2 separate regions of the Homo sapiens genome follow, and region 1 is linked to region 2. A link means that fine-mapping ties the variant in region 2 to the expression of a gene that starts in the linked region. Tissue or cell type: T cells. Region 2 holds a variant in brackets; the other region holds the start of a gene. All regions are shown on one strand. Distances are between the middles of the regions.

What was found. PIP is the estimated chance that this variant, and not a neighbour inherited with it, causes the effect.
Region 1: it holds the start of LASP1NB, and the variant in region 2 is fine-mapped to the expression of LASP1NB in T cells (TOPMed, PIP 0.97).

Annotation. Positions count from the first base shown.
Region 1 is chr17:38,922,265-38,928,319 of GRCh38, reverse strand. It overlaps LASP1NB (LASP1 neighbor), which reads right to left and starts at 2,706. Exons shown (of 2, transcript NM_001414697.1): 1 at 2,429-2,706; 2 at 1-1,903. The coding sequence starts at 2,626. The coding sequence ends at 2,549. RefSeq lists an enhancer at 5,711-6,055.
Region 2 is chr17:38,891,513-38,897,567 of GRCh38, reverse strand. The region is part of intron 3 of LASP1 (LIM and SH3 protein 1); the gene reads right to left. Among named protein-coding and RNA genes, the nearest start is that of MIR6779, 20 kb to the left of the region's middle. RefSeq lists enhancers at 443-964, 965-1,486, 1,487-2,008, 4,095-4,668. The variant T/C (reference allele first, on the strand shown) is at 3,222.

The sequences.
Region 1 (6,055 bases), 31 kb before region 2:
ATGTATTTATTTATTTTTATTTTATTTTTTATTTTTGTGGAGACGGGGGTCTCGCTATATTGCCTGGGCTGGTCTGGAATTCTTGGCCTCAAGCTATCCTCCTGCTTCTACTTCCCTAAATGCTGGGATTATAGGCATGCGCCATAGCACCTGGCCTAGCCCTAAAGTTTAAATGACTTATGAAAGGTCAGGTCATATAATTTGTTGCCAAAACAAAGCTTCCAGAATAGTGTTTTTTCTTGTCCATAATTTTTATGTTTTTATTATTATTTTTTTTTGAGATGGGGTCTTGCTGTGTCACCTAGGCTGGAGTGCAGAGGTGTGATCTCGGCTCACTGCAACCTCTGCCTCCCAGGTTCAAGCGATTCTCCTGCCTCAGCCTCCTGAGTAGCTGGGATTACAGGCACCTGCCACCACACCAGCTAATTTTTGTATTTTTAGTAGAGACAGGGTTTCACCACGTTGGTCAGACTGGTCTCAAACTCCCGACCTCAAGTGATCCTCCTGCCTGAGCCTCCCAAAGTGCTGGGATTCCAGGCGTGAGCCACCGTGCCCGGCCTTGTCCATAATTTTTAAACACAACTTTTCCATTTCAGTTGTGACATATAATGCCTCAATTTTTGTTTTAAAACATGGAAATTGGACACAATGTTATTACTAAAAACTAATCTTTCTCCTTGTTTATTTATTTATTTATTTTATTTTATTTGAGACGGAATCTCGCTATGTCTCCCAGGCTGGAGTGCAGTGACATGATGTCGGCTCACTACAACCTCTGCCTCCCGGGTTCAAGCAATTCTTCGGCCTCAGCCTCCCGGGTAGCTGGGACTACAGGCGCGCACTACTGTGCCTGACTAATTTTTGTATTTTTAGTAGAGACGGGGTTTCACCGTGTTGGCCAGGCTGGTCTCCAACTCCTGACCTCAGGTGATCCATCCGCCTCGGCCTCCCAGAGTGCTGGGATTACAGGCATGAGCCACCACTCCTGACTCTCCTTGTTTACTTTTAAGCAAGAAAGGAAAATTAAATGTAGAACAATTATGATAGACTTGTAAAAGGAATAAACACCCCAGATTTGCAGGCCAATTCTACTCTGAATCCCAAAATACATAGTTTCTTCAACTCTAATGGGTCAGAGAACTATGTGGAAAGTTTTTTCCAGAAAAGATCTTTGATTAAAACACACACACACACACACACGCACACACACACACACACACACACTCATTTTGGGGTAAGAGATTTTTCCTAAATAAGTATAGCCATCTTGTTTCTATCATTTATAATTCAATCAGGTGCAAAGAGAGGACTATATAACCATTTCTCCCTTTAAATGAGAAACTGGGATACAAGTGGTTTGAGGTGGGGAAGAAATGATACATTTTAAAAACTCAAATGACAAGTTCTTCCTGGCTGGAGAGTGAGACAAGAGAAACCACAAAACCCCAGACTGTGCAATCTGTAAAGACAGTGATAAAGTGACTACTTCATAGATGAAGATGGACAACTTGAACTTCCCCTTGAGTTTCACAAGGGAGTCCTGTGTGTGAGAAGGAAGGAACATATTTGAGTGTAATGTGCAGTTGCATTTAGATCTAAGGAAACTTAAAATGAATTTAAGTTTCCTTAATTCAAAATGAATTTTTGAGCAGTTCTCCACGGTAACTTTAATAAGTCTCCATTTCAACTTTCTGTTCTCAATCCCATCTACAGCTCAAACATATGCAGTATCTGCCAGCCCTGTCCATGAATTCCTGAAGTCCCAGCCAAGTGCCTCTCAGCTCAAAAAGCCCCTTGCTTGCCAGGGGTCAGCCATGTCTGGAAGGCTCTGAAAGAGGTCTGCTGGGCAGTAGGACTGCTTCTGTGGATGAGAGGCCTCTTGTTGGACTGGAGAGACCAGGAGCTGTAAGAAACCCAGAAATAAAAAGTCTCAGATGGGGACAACTGCAAAGTACCAGGAGTTCCTCCCTCCTCTCCACCATATCCCACAGTTGGACATCTCCCCGAAAACCCCACCCCAAGTAAAATTTATTTGCCGTCTCACCCTCAAATAAGAATGAGTCAATCATTAAGTAATGCAATTATACAAGCATAGTTGTAAACAACTATATTGCAAGTATGCTGACATGCAAAGATGTGTTTTACCTTTAATTACCAGAAGAAAATAGACAACTTGAGTTTGAGCACCTAACTTGAAGAAGAAATTAGGAAATAATAGTCCCTCCCCACCACATCCATCATTCCCAACCCGTTCTGCCTAAAAATCGTTTACATTGTGGATTTTATTTGTAATTTTTAAAGTCTTATTTTAAATTAGGTCCCAAAGAAAGAAGCTGGCATTTCTTATTCTTTTCAGAGTGGTCTAAGAAAAAAAATAGGAAAGCAAACTCTTTCTTTTTTTCTTTTCTTTTTTTTTTGGAATCAATACCCGAGATAACAGCAGAAGCAAAAATCCACCGGTGCGTCAGCAAGCAGGGCACTCGGCCATTCATCTCCATCCTTCCTTCTGAGCTGTTCTCCAGCAGGCTCCGGCCGCAGCTCCAGGCCACTAGAGCAGATAGATAATGTAGGACAGAATGACCAGGCCTATGATGGCAAAGAACATCAGGATGAAAATATCCAGCATTGTGGATTCCTAGGCCGACCAAGCCCCTGGATTCTGGTGAACCGTGAGCTGTGAGCACGGAGGTTGCAGTCGGTGGAGAGAAATGGCTCCCCTTCACTCCACAGCTCAGCCCTGGTTCTTTCCCCTCCCCCTCCCAGGGGCCTGAGACTGAAGGATGCTGCAGCTCCACCAGCAGCTTCCTGCCCCCCCACCAACCACAGCCAACCAATCACAAAGCCTGGGGGTGGATAGCCAAGGAGATGCCAGATTTAGACCCACAGAACCGCAGAATCAAAGGGGCTCAATTTCTCCCCAGGAACCCAATCCCACCCCTTTGTATCTAAATGGAGCCTGCATGCTCTGGATGTAGGAGGAGATAGGATCCTACCCAGCTCCCCCAAGAGTGAATCCTCCTGACTGCCTTCTTCGCGTTTCCTCTCACACACCTCGGGCAGATTATCTCAGAAAAATCATGGTTGGGTATTGGGTGGGCCATTGGCAACTTCTAAAGGTCACATTATGGGGAGACACAGACAAAAGTTTCGTGTGGATCTCAGTGGGCTTCCCTGAGGGATGAAGCTAACATTTATACATTTCCTACACTGGGCCAGATATCGTACATGTGGTGCAATTTCAACCTCCCTATGAGTCTTTCATAGATGGGGCTCAGAGATGGTCAGAAACTTACCCTAATGGTTCATAGCTTAGATGTGTCAGAGACCAGCCGGGCGCAGTGGCTCATGCCTATAATCCCAGCACTTTGGGAGGCCGAGGCAGGTGGATCACAAGGTCAGGAGTTCAAGACCAGCCTGGCCAAGATGGTGAAACCCTGTCTCTACTAAAAATACAAAAGTTAGCCAGGCTTGGTGGTGCATGCCTGTAATCCCAGCTACTTGGGAGGCTGAGGCAGAGAATTGCTTGAACCCGGGAGGCAGAGCTGAGATCGCGCCACTGCACCCCAGCCTGGGCTACAGAGCAAGATTCTGTCTCAAAAAAAAAATAAAAATAAAAATTAGCCGGGCGTGGTGGCAGGTGCCTGTTATCCCAGCTATTCAAGAGGCTGAGGCTAAAGAATTGCTTGAACCCGGCAGGCAGAGGTCGCAGTGAGCTGAGACCGTGCCATTGCACTCCAGCCTGGGTGACAGAGCGAGACTCCGTCTCAAAAATAAATAAATTAATAAATAAAATAAAAAGTAAAAGGCTGGGTGTGGTGGCTCATGCCTGTAATCCCAACACTTTGGGAGGCTGAGGTAGGTGAATCACCTGAGGTCAGGAGTTCAAGACCAGCCTGACCAACATGGAGAAACTCCAGCTCTACTAAAAATACAAAATTAGCTGGGCATGGTGGCACATGCCTGTAATCCCAGCTACTCAGGAGGCTGAGGCAGGAGAATCGCTTGAACCTGGGAGGTGGAGGTTGCAGTGAGCTGAGATTGTGCCATTGCACTCCAGCCTGGGCAACAAGAGTGAAACTCCGTCTCAAAATAATTAATTAATTAATTAAAAATGTCAGAGACCAGGATTCAAAACTAGGCATGCTGACACCAAAGTCCATATTCTTCCTCTTGCGCCACACTGCTCCCCCTGTTGGTCCGGAAGGCCCCTACACCCCACGTGCACTGCTCAGCTTGCAGTGGACTGCTTTCACATCGATCCACCTACAGGACGAGCACCAGAGACCCCTCCTCCACCCACTCCTTCGTCTCTTTGCAGTCATTACCCACTGTTTTGTTTTCCTTCTTTCTTTTTTTATAGAGACGGGGTCTTGCCATTTTGCCCAGGCTGGTCTCAAACTCCTGGACTCAAGCGATCCTCCCACCTCAGCCTCCCAAAGTGCTGGGATTGCAGGTGTGAACCACCGCACCCGGCCTAGTTTTGTTTTCTTTGGTATCCTCTTCCAAAAGCTCAGCATAGTGTTGTACACAGAGAGGACACTGAAGAATTCCCCAGGGGTATCCCTGAAATTTAAAAAATTCAAGTGGTTTCTTCTGAGGGGGAAAAGAGAATTATTTTATTCTTTTTATTTATTTATTTATTTATTTATTTATTTATTTATTTATTTATTCTTAGACGGAGTCTTGCTCTGTCACCCAGGCTGGAGTGCAGTGGCACGATCTCAGCTCAGTGCAAGCTCTGCCTCCCGGGTTCACGCCATTCTCCTGCCTCAGCCTCCCGAGTAGCTGGGACTACAGGCACCCGCCACCGCGCCCAGCTTATTTTTTGTATTTTTAGTATAGACGGGGTTTCACTGTGTTAGCCAGGATTTTTGTGCCTTTTTATAAGCCTCAATTATTTTCTATTAAATTAAATCATTCCCTAGGACGTCTCTGAGGCCTAGTCTCCTTGGCCCCCACCCCAAATAATATTTTTTTTAAAGGCCTGGGGTTAAGATATATTGGTAACCCCCTCATAATGCAAGACCTCAGGAACTTAGGCCACTGCCAGAAGGAAATCCAGAAACTCCTCCCATTGGCCCATTTCCAGGAGGCAGAGCTTTCTGTGAGCAGGGAGTGGAGACTTGGCAGCAATGTCCCCCAAAGCACTGTTCCATCAAATAGATCTGAAGGTGAATGAAGCCTCCCGGGGAGTGGGGCAGGCCGACATGAGGCAAGCTTTGCCAACTAATTCCCTTCTATTGGGAAAGTATTGGGCTGCCTGCACCCCTGGAGGGGAGCAGGTGTCAGTGCTGTCTCTAATTATACCACCCAGGGCAGCCTTGGATGCTCCCCACATTGCCCCAGCTCAGCTGACTCTGGCCATGTCATTCTCCAGATTACAAATGCTCAGCTCAGGAGAGCCCTCCTCCTCTCCACCCTGCTGTGATTCTGAGGCTGGAGAATTCCTTAGTTCTGAGCCCCAAGAGAGAAATGCCCCTCAAGCAGCTGGACCTGAGGCTGATTGGCAGCACTGAGCAGGGCCAGATTCCCCTCTCTACCACTGTCCTCTTCCCAAGCCCAATGAGCAAGAGGGGAGGCCGCCTGGCCTTCTGGCCAGTCACAGACCCTGGGCACCTGGAGCAAAACATGGAGCCCAGGAGACACACATCTAAGAGCTGCCACAGACACAGGCACGCGGCCTGCCATGGCCGGGTGGCACAGCACCAGACTGTGAGCATCACATGGGGGTCTCAGGCCCCACTCTGCCACTAGCTGTGACTGCCACCAATCTGCTTTGCCTTTCTGGGTTTCAGTGAGCCCCTCTATAAGTAGTTACTTCTCTCACAGGGTTGTGAGGAAGAAGGAAGAAAGGGGATGTGTATTAAAGATTACATTCAGAAGGCACTGTGAATAGTGCTTTGGGTTGCCAGGCCACCTTACAGACAGCTTTATCCAGGTCCCGTCCCACTGTGGAATGCCCTGTCATCTCGTTCCTCAAATGCGTGGAGCTCCTGCTCTCTGCCTGGCAGCGGCAGAGTGCTAGAACTGCTCCCCAGCCAAGCTCATTCATTAA
Region 2 (6,055 bases):
ATGAGGAACAGCTTGTCCTCCCCTGAGGGTTTTGAAGAACAGAATGAGGCTGAGAAAACTCATGGAACAGGAAACTATTCCTTGGCTTCCAGAGACTTCACTGTCCACCTCATCAGCCATCTGTTCCAGACCCCACCAGCTGCTTGGATTTCCTCCACGGGGGCTGCACTGTCCTGGACACAGGTCAGCCCAGGACACAAACCCAGGCAGTTCCCTGGCAGGGAATCATCTGGCAGCAGCACCGAGCTGTGCTTGGACTGGAGCGACTGCGCATGCGCATGCAGCCACGGCCACACCTGTCAGGTCCTCTGCACATGCCTGTGGGGGTCAGAGTCCTTGTTTGTCTCCTGAAGCCCCCAGTCACTCATCCATGTGGTTCCCTCTCCTTCTCTGTTCTGATCCAGACAAGAAGGGCTTGGATGTGCTGTTCCCCATTAGTTCAGAAGTGAATGCAGTGGATAGAGGCACCAACCCACCCCAAGAGTCCAGAACCTGCCTAGCACCAGCTCTTCCTCAGTCCTGGAAGCCCTGGGCCAGCACGGTGACTCTTAGTGGGAGGCCCTTTGGGAAGCGGGCATCGGGGAAGGTAGGGCACTCAGAGGCAGAGAAATGTAGCTCCAGATACAGAAGCCCTGCATCTCAAGCCCCTGGCCTCGGTTTCTTCATCTGTAAAAGAGTTGTGACAGAAATCAGGTATAATATGGGGAGGGGGCTTCTTATCACCAAGTCTGGGCACAAAGCCAGGCGGAGCTAGCACTAACGCAGGCTCAGTCTCCCACTTCTGAGTGATCTTGGGCCAACGACTTCACATCTCAAGACTCAGTTCCCACATCTGTAAAATGGGGACCATAACGCCAGTCACTCCAACCCACGATACAGACAGTGGCTCTAAAGCAGCAGCGCACTGTGGAGGGCCAGTGTGAAAGTGCTCTGTCAGCAATGAAGTGCTGAACGAGTGCCAGTCCCCCACTCCGTCCCCTGCTTCCTGGCTTTGCAAGGGTCAGGCCCCTAATCCAGGGGAATAATCGCCATGGCGACGCTGCAATGACATCAGCAGGTTCCCAGGATCGGGAACTGCTTCTGCCTCCCCCTCCCTGTTGGGGAAGGATCATTCATTTCACTGCTAACATAGGAGGCCCACAGAGGGTAGGGGTGAGGGGTAGGGGCTGAGAAGGGAGGGAGCCTGGGATCAGCACCACCTTGCTGTGTGTTTCTAAGCAAGTCAGTTCCCCTCTCTGGGTCCCCTGAAGGGAGCTGGCTAGCTGATCTCTAAAATCCCTCCCATTTGGAGTCTGTGACCATTTTAAAGCACCTTCAGACCCTGACTATGGATAATCAAGACAGGGAGGCTCTTTGAAAGGTCTTTGGGTATGGAAGGGGTGGCAGAAGTGAAGGGTGGGGGGCCAGGGGTGTAGGGAGGGCCCAGCCCAGAGCCCCTCTTCAGGGCTCCCTTCTTGCCCTGGCAGGAGTGCTTGCCCCTGTTGTCTAGGATGGCTCACCAGGGTGCTGTGGGGGTCCCTGTGGAGGAAGGGACCTGCCCAAGGTCACAACCCAGTTGTCGCTCAGGCCAGGATGCAACTCAGCGCTTCGGTCAGAGGACCCCACTTCTGGGAGATGCCTGGGCTCCCAGAGGACCCCACTCCTGGGAGATACCTGGGCTCCCATTTTGGAAACTCTGCTGTCAGGCCCAGGACTGACTGACATCTGAGGCTCCTGACACCCAAACAACCACCATCCGTGAAACTCTAATTTTTCTGTCAGTTCTTAGTTGTTCTCCCTGGATCTATCTTGCTTCTCATCCCAGCAGACAGGAGGTGCAGATCAACATTTGTTGGATCATGAATGAATTGAATGCAGACACGTAATCTCCAAACAAAGCAGCATAATTGGGAAAACAACTGCCTTGATGACCCAATATAAGAAGAAGGATCATTACTTAAAAACAAAAATTATGCCAGGCACGGTGGCTCACGCCTGTAATCCCACCACTTTGGGAGGCAGAGGTGGGTGGATCACCTGAGGTCAGGAGTTCATGACCAGCCTAACATGCTGAAACCCCATCTCTACTAAAAAAAATACAAAAAAAGTTAGCCGGGCGTGGTGGGCGTAATCCCAGCTACTTGGGAGGCTGAGGCAGGAGAATTCCTTGAACCTGGGAGCCGGAGGTTGCAGTGAGCTGAGATGGTGACACTGTACTCCAGGCTGGGCGACAGAGTAAAACTCCGTCTAAAAAAAAAACACAAAAATTAGGCTGGACTTAAAAAACAAAATGGCTCATGTCTGTAATCCCAGCAGTCTAGGAGGCCAAGACAGGTGGATCACTCGAGCCCAGGAGTTCGAGACCAGCCTGGGAACATAGTACCCCATCTCTATTTAAAAAAAAAAAAAATTAATAAAAATCTCTAAAAAAATACAAAATTTATTGAGCGAAATACAATTTCCACTATTATGTGCCTACCATGTGTTGGGCCAACATACTTTGTAACCCATCCCCTTCTAACAAAAAAGAAACACTAGTTTTTAAAATTTAGGCAGGGCGCGGTGGCTGACACCTGTAATCCCAGCACTTTGGGAGGCTGAGGTGGGCAGATCACTTGAGGTCAGGAGTTTGAAACAAGCCTGGGCAACATGACGAAACCCTGTCTCTACTAAAAATACAAAAATTAGCCGGGCATGGTGATGCACGCCTGTAGTCCCAGCTATTCAGGAGGTGGAGGCGAGAAAATCGCTTGAGTCTGGGAAGTCAAGGCTGCAATGAGCCAAGATCACGCCACTGCATTCCAGCCTGGGAGACAGAGAGAGACCCTGTCTCAAAAAAATACAAATTTAAAAAAAAAATTAGACACACACAGATGGAGAGGAGAGCTGATGGAAAGGGCCGGGGCTGGAAGTCATGGTCAAAAGGTTGCTGTGTGTATTTCCCAGCTTCTTCATGTCCAAGTTCCATTTCCTCTCCTTTCCGGGAGAACAGTAGTAGCAAACACTGAATGCTGACTCCACGTCAGGAATCTTTAAATGCTTAACATATCCTCCTATCTCACACCACCCTCTGGAGAGAGGTAATCCACATTATTCAGACGAAGGCACTGTGCACAGAGGTTAAGCAACTTGCCCAAGGTCACACAGCTGGTGGCAGCAGATGCGAGATTCAATCTCAGGCCAGCTAGTTCGGGTAAGAGTGATACTCTACCACCCGTGCTGCTTACAAGATCCGAGGAGGA[T/C]AGAAACCCCCCTGTAATTTCCCATGACCCCATCAAGGTGAGTTGATGAAGGAAAAAATGGAAGAACAGTCTACTGGCACTTGGCACTTCTGCCTGGGCTCAGGGCCATACAGACACCTCCAGCTCAGTCCCACCCCAAAGCCACTGCCTCTGCTCAGCCTGGGGGTGGGATAGGAGCAGCAAGTGAGAAGGGGGGCTGGGGGTCCAGCTGCCAGCCCCCTGCCTCAGCCAGGCCTGGGCAGGACCACCGAGAGGGTCATTTCTGGACAGTTCTGTGGTTACCTCCTCCACAGGGGAGGCTCCAGGTGTCCCAGACACCCAAAGTGCCATTTTGGAGACCAATATAGAGATGGGAAAATAAATAAAGCTGAAATAGCCTGGGCAGCTTCCCAGAGACAGGGAAGGGCAAGGCAGGCCCAGAAGGGGCATGGAGAGAAGCCAGCTGACCCCGTGGGGTGAAGCTGGGTGAGCAGAAGAGGCTCCCCCTTCCCTTCCTGCTAGCCGCAGGCAGCTCTCTCCAGCTCTGCCCCCACGGCAGCCACAGGAACCAGAACCCGTCACTGCTCCAGCCTGGCCGGCTCAGCCCTTCCAAGCCTCAAAGCATCAGGCCCAGCCCCCAGCTTGAGGCAACTGGGTTTGCTGTCCTCATTTTACTGGTGAGGAAGCAAAGCTATGAGAGGAAAGACAGTCTGAGGCCAGTCTCAGACCACACAGCTGGTGGGCGGTGGGAAGGGAGACAGAACAGGCCTGCAAAAAGGGCAGTACCCTTTCCTCCCCTGCCTATCCTGCCCTCAGCCCCCAACCCCCGAGGACCCCCACCTCAGGGGAACAGAGCCGTGCCCTTAGTGCAAAGCCCTACCCTAATGTGGCACCCCTCAGAGCATACAAACAGGGTCGGTACACTCCTGCCCATGGACCCATCTCTAAGCTTCTTAAAGTGGGGCCAAAAGTCCTTATCAGAATCACGGGGGAGTCAAAATGCAGATTCTTGGGCCTCACCCAGAGCTGCCAAGCAGAAGTCCCTTGGGTGGGGCCTAGGAATCTGCATTCCAACAAGCCCATCCTACTTGCTGCTGACTGGTGCATCCTGCAGGGTGGGAGCACAGGGCTCGGTGCCTGTGCCATCAGCACTGTTCAGAGCAACGGGCTCCAGGGCCAGGTCATGGGACTTGATGTCTGCCCCTGTCCCTGGGCTCTGCACAAGCAGGGCAGCCTCTGTAAACCTCAGTTTCCCTATCTGTATGATGGGGATAATAAGAGCCCCTCTTTCATCAGGTGGCTGTAAGGATTAAACAAAGTCAGGCATACACGCATACATGCGTGCATGCTTGCACACACACACACACACATACACGCGTGCATGCGTGCACACGCACACACACACACATACACACACGGACACGCTCTGGCCCTCAGTGAGGCCCTAATGAAGAGTGACCGCCATTTTCATCTCCCAAGAGGCCCCCCCGGGAACCCAGCAGGCTATGACCCTGGGAAGCAGGGGGCACAGGCCAGGGACAGGAGCCCCCAAACCCAGAGCGTGGTGCTGGCTTCCCCTGTGGGGGGCAGAAGCAGCCCCTGCCAACAGCATGCCCTGCCCACTTGCTGCCCATCCTGGGCAGGGGGAACAACGTGGAGGTGCTTCCTCCTCAAACCCCACCCCTCGGGGATAGGGTGCCGGGGCAAAAAGAGCTGCAGCCACGCTTTTGTGGAACTGACAAAGGCTGAGGGGTTTGAATTTCTCCCCTGAGAAGGGTGTGTGTGTGTGTGTGTGTGTGTGTGTGTGTGTGTGTGTCTCCAAAGACCTGCTATCTGCTCCCAGCACCTCTTCTCCGAGGTCCTTCTGAGCCCCTCCACCTCTGGCCCCCATGGCCCTTCCACAGGGCAGGGAATTGAAGGCAGGAGTCAGGGCCTGGCTAGAATCTGTAAAATATGGCCAGGCAGGCTGTGGTGTTCCCTGCTTCCTAGTAACTTCAGCTTCTGTGCCGCAGGTGGGTGGGTGGCAGGTGTGAGCTGCTGCTCTCTTCCTCTGTGAGCCTCAGGCCCTACCAGGGCTGTGCAGCATCAAGGGCCCCAGACTTGGGAGTGACAAGACCAGGGCCCAAATCCTGGATCCGCATTCACTCACTCGGTTCCCCTATCTGTAAGACAGAGACGCTGGGTCTTTTACCTTCTCCCAGAACCCAGTCAAGGATAAACAGGGGAACTAACTAAAGGCACTTGCTGAACTACACAATTTCTTGCTTTTCCTTTTTTTAGAGACAGGGTCTCACCCCATCACCCAGGCTGGAGTGTAGTGGTGCGATCATGGCTCACTGCAGCCTCCAACTCCTCAGCTCAAGTGATACTCCCGCCTCAAACTCCCAAGTAGCTACGACCACAGGTGCACACCACCATCTCTGCTCGTTTTTTTTTTTAGGGACCAGGTATTGCTATGTTGCCCCAGCTGGTCTCGAACTCCTGGGCTCAAGTGATCCTCTTACCTTGGCCTCCCAGAGCACAGGGATTACAGGCGTGAGCCATGGCTCCCAGCCCTAAACTACAAAACTTCTCAACAGCATAAGGAACTATCATGTTTATTATTAAGGTAGAGACTGTTTCTTGGGGAGTGGATAGTCCCTGGGTTAGACAAACCTACATTCAAAGCTGCCAGTGTCTATTTCCTCTTCTCTGAAGTGAAGTGATGCTACAGCTGCACAGGGCTGGGTGAGGATTAAACGAGCTCACACGCCGGGAGCACTGAGCCCTCCATCGTCAGCTGTGAATATTATTATTGCCTCTCCTACCCGCAGGACCTCAGCTAGTCCCTCAAAGTCGCTGGGCCTCAGTCGCCT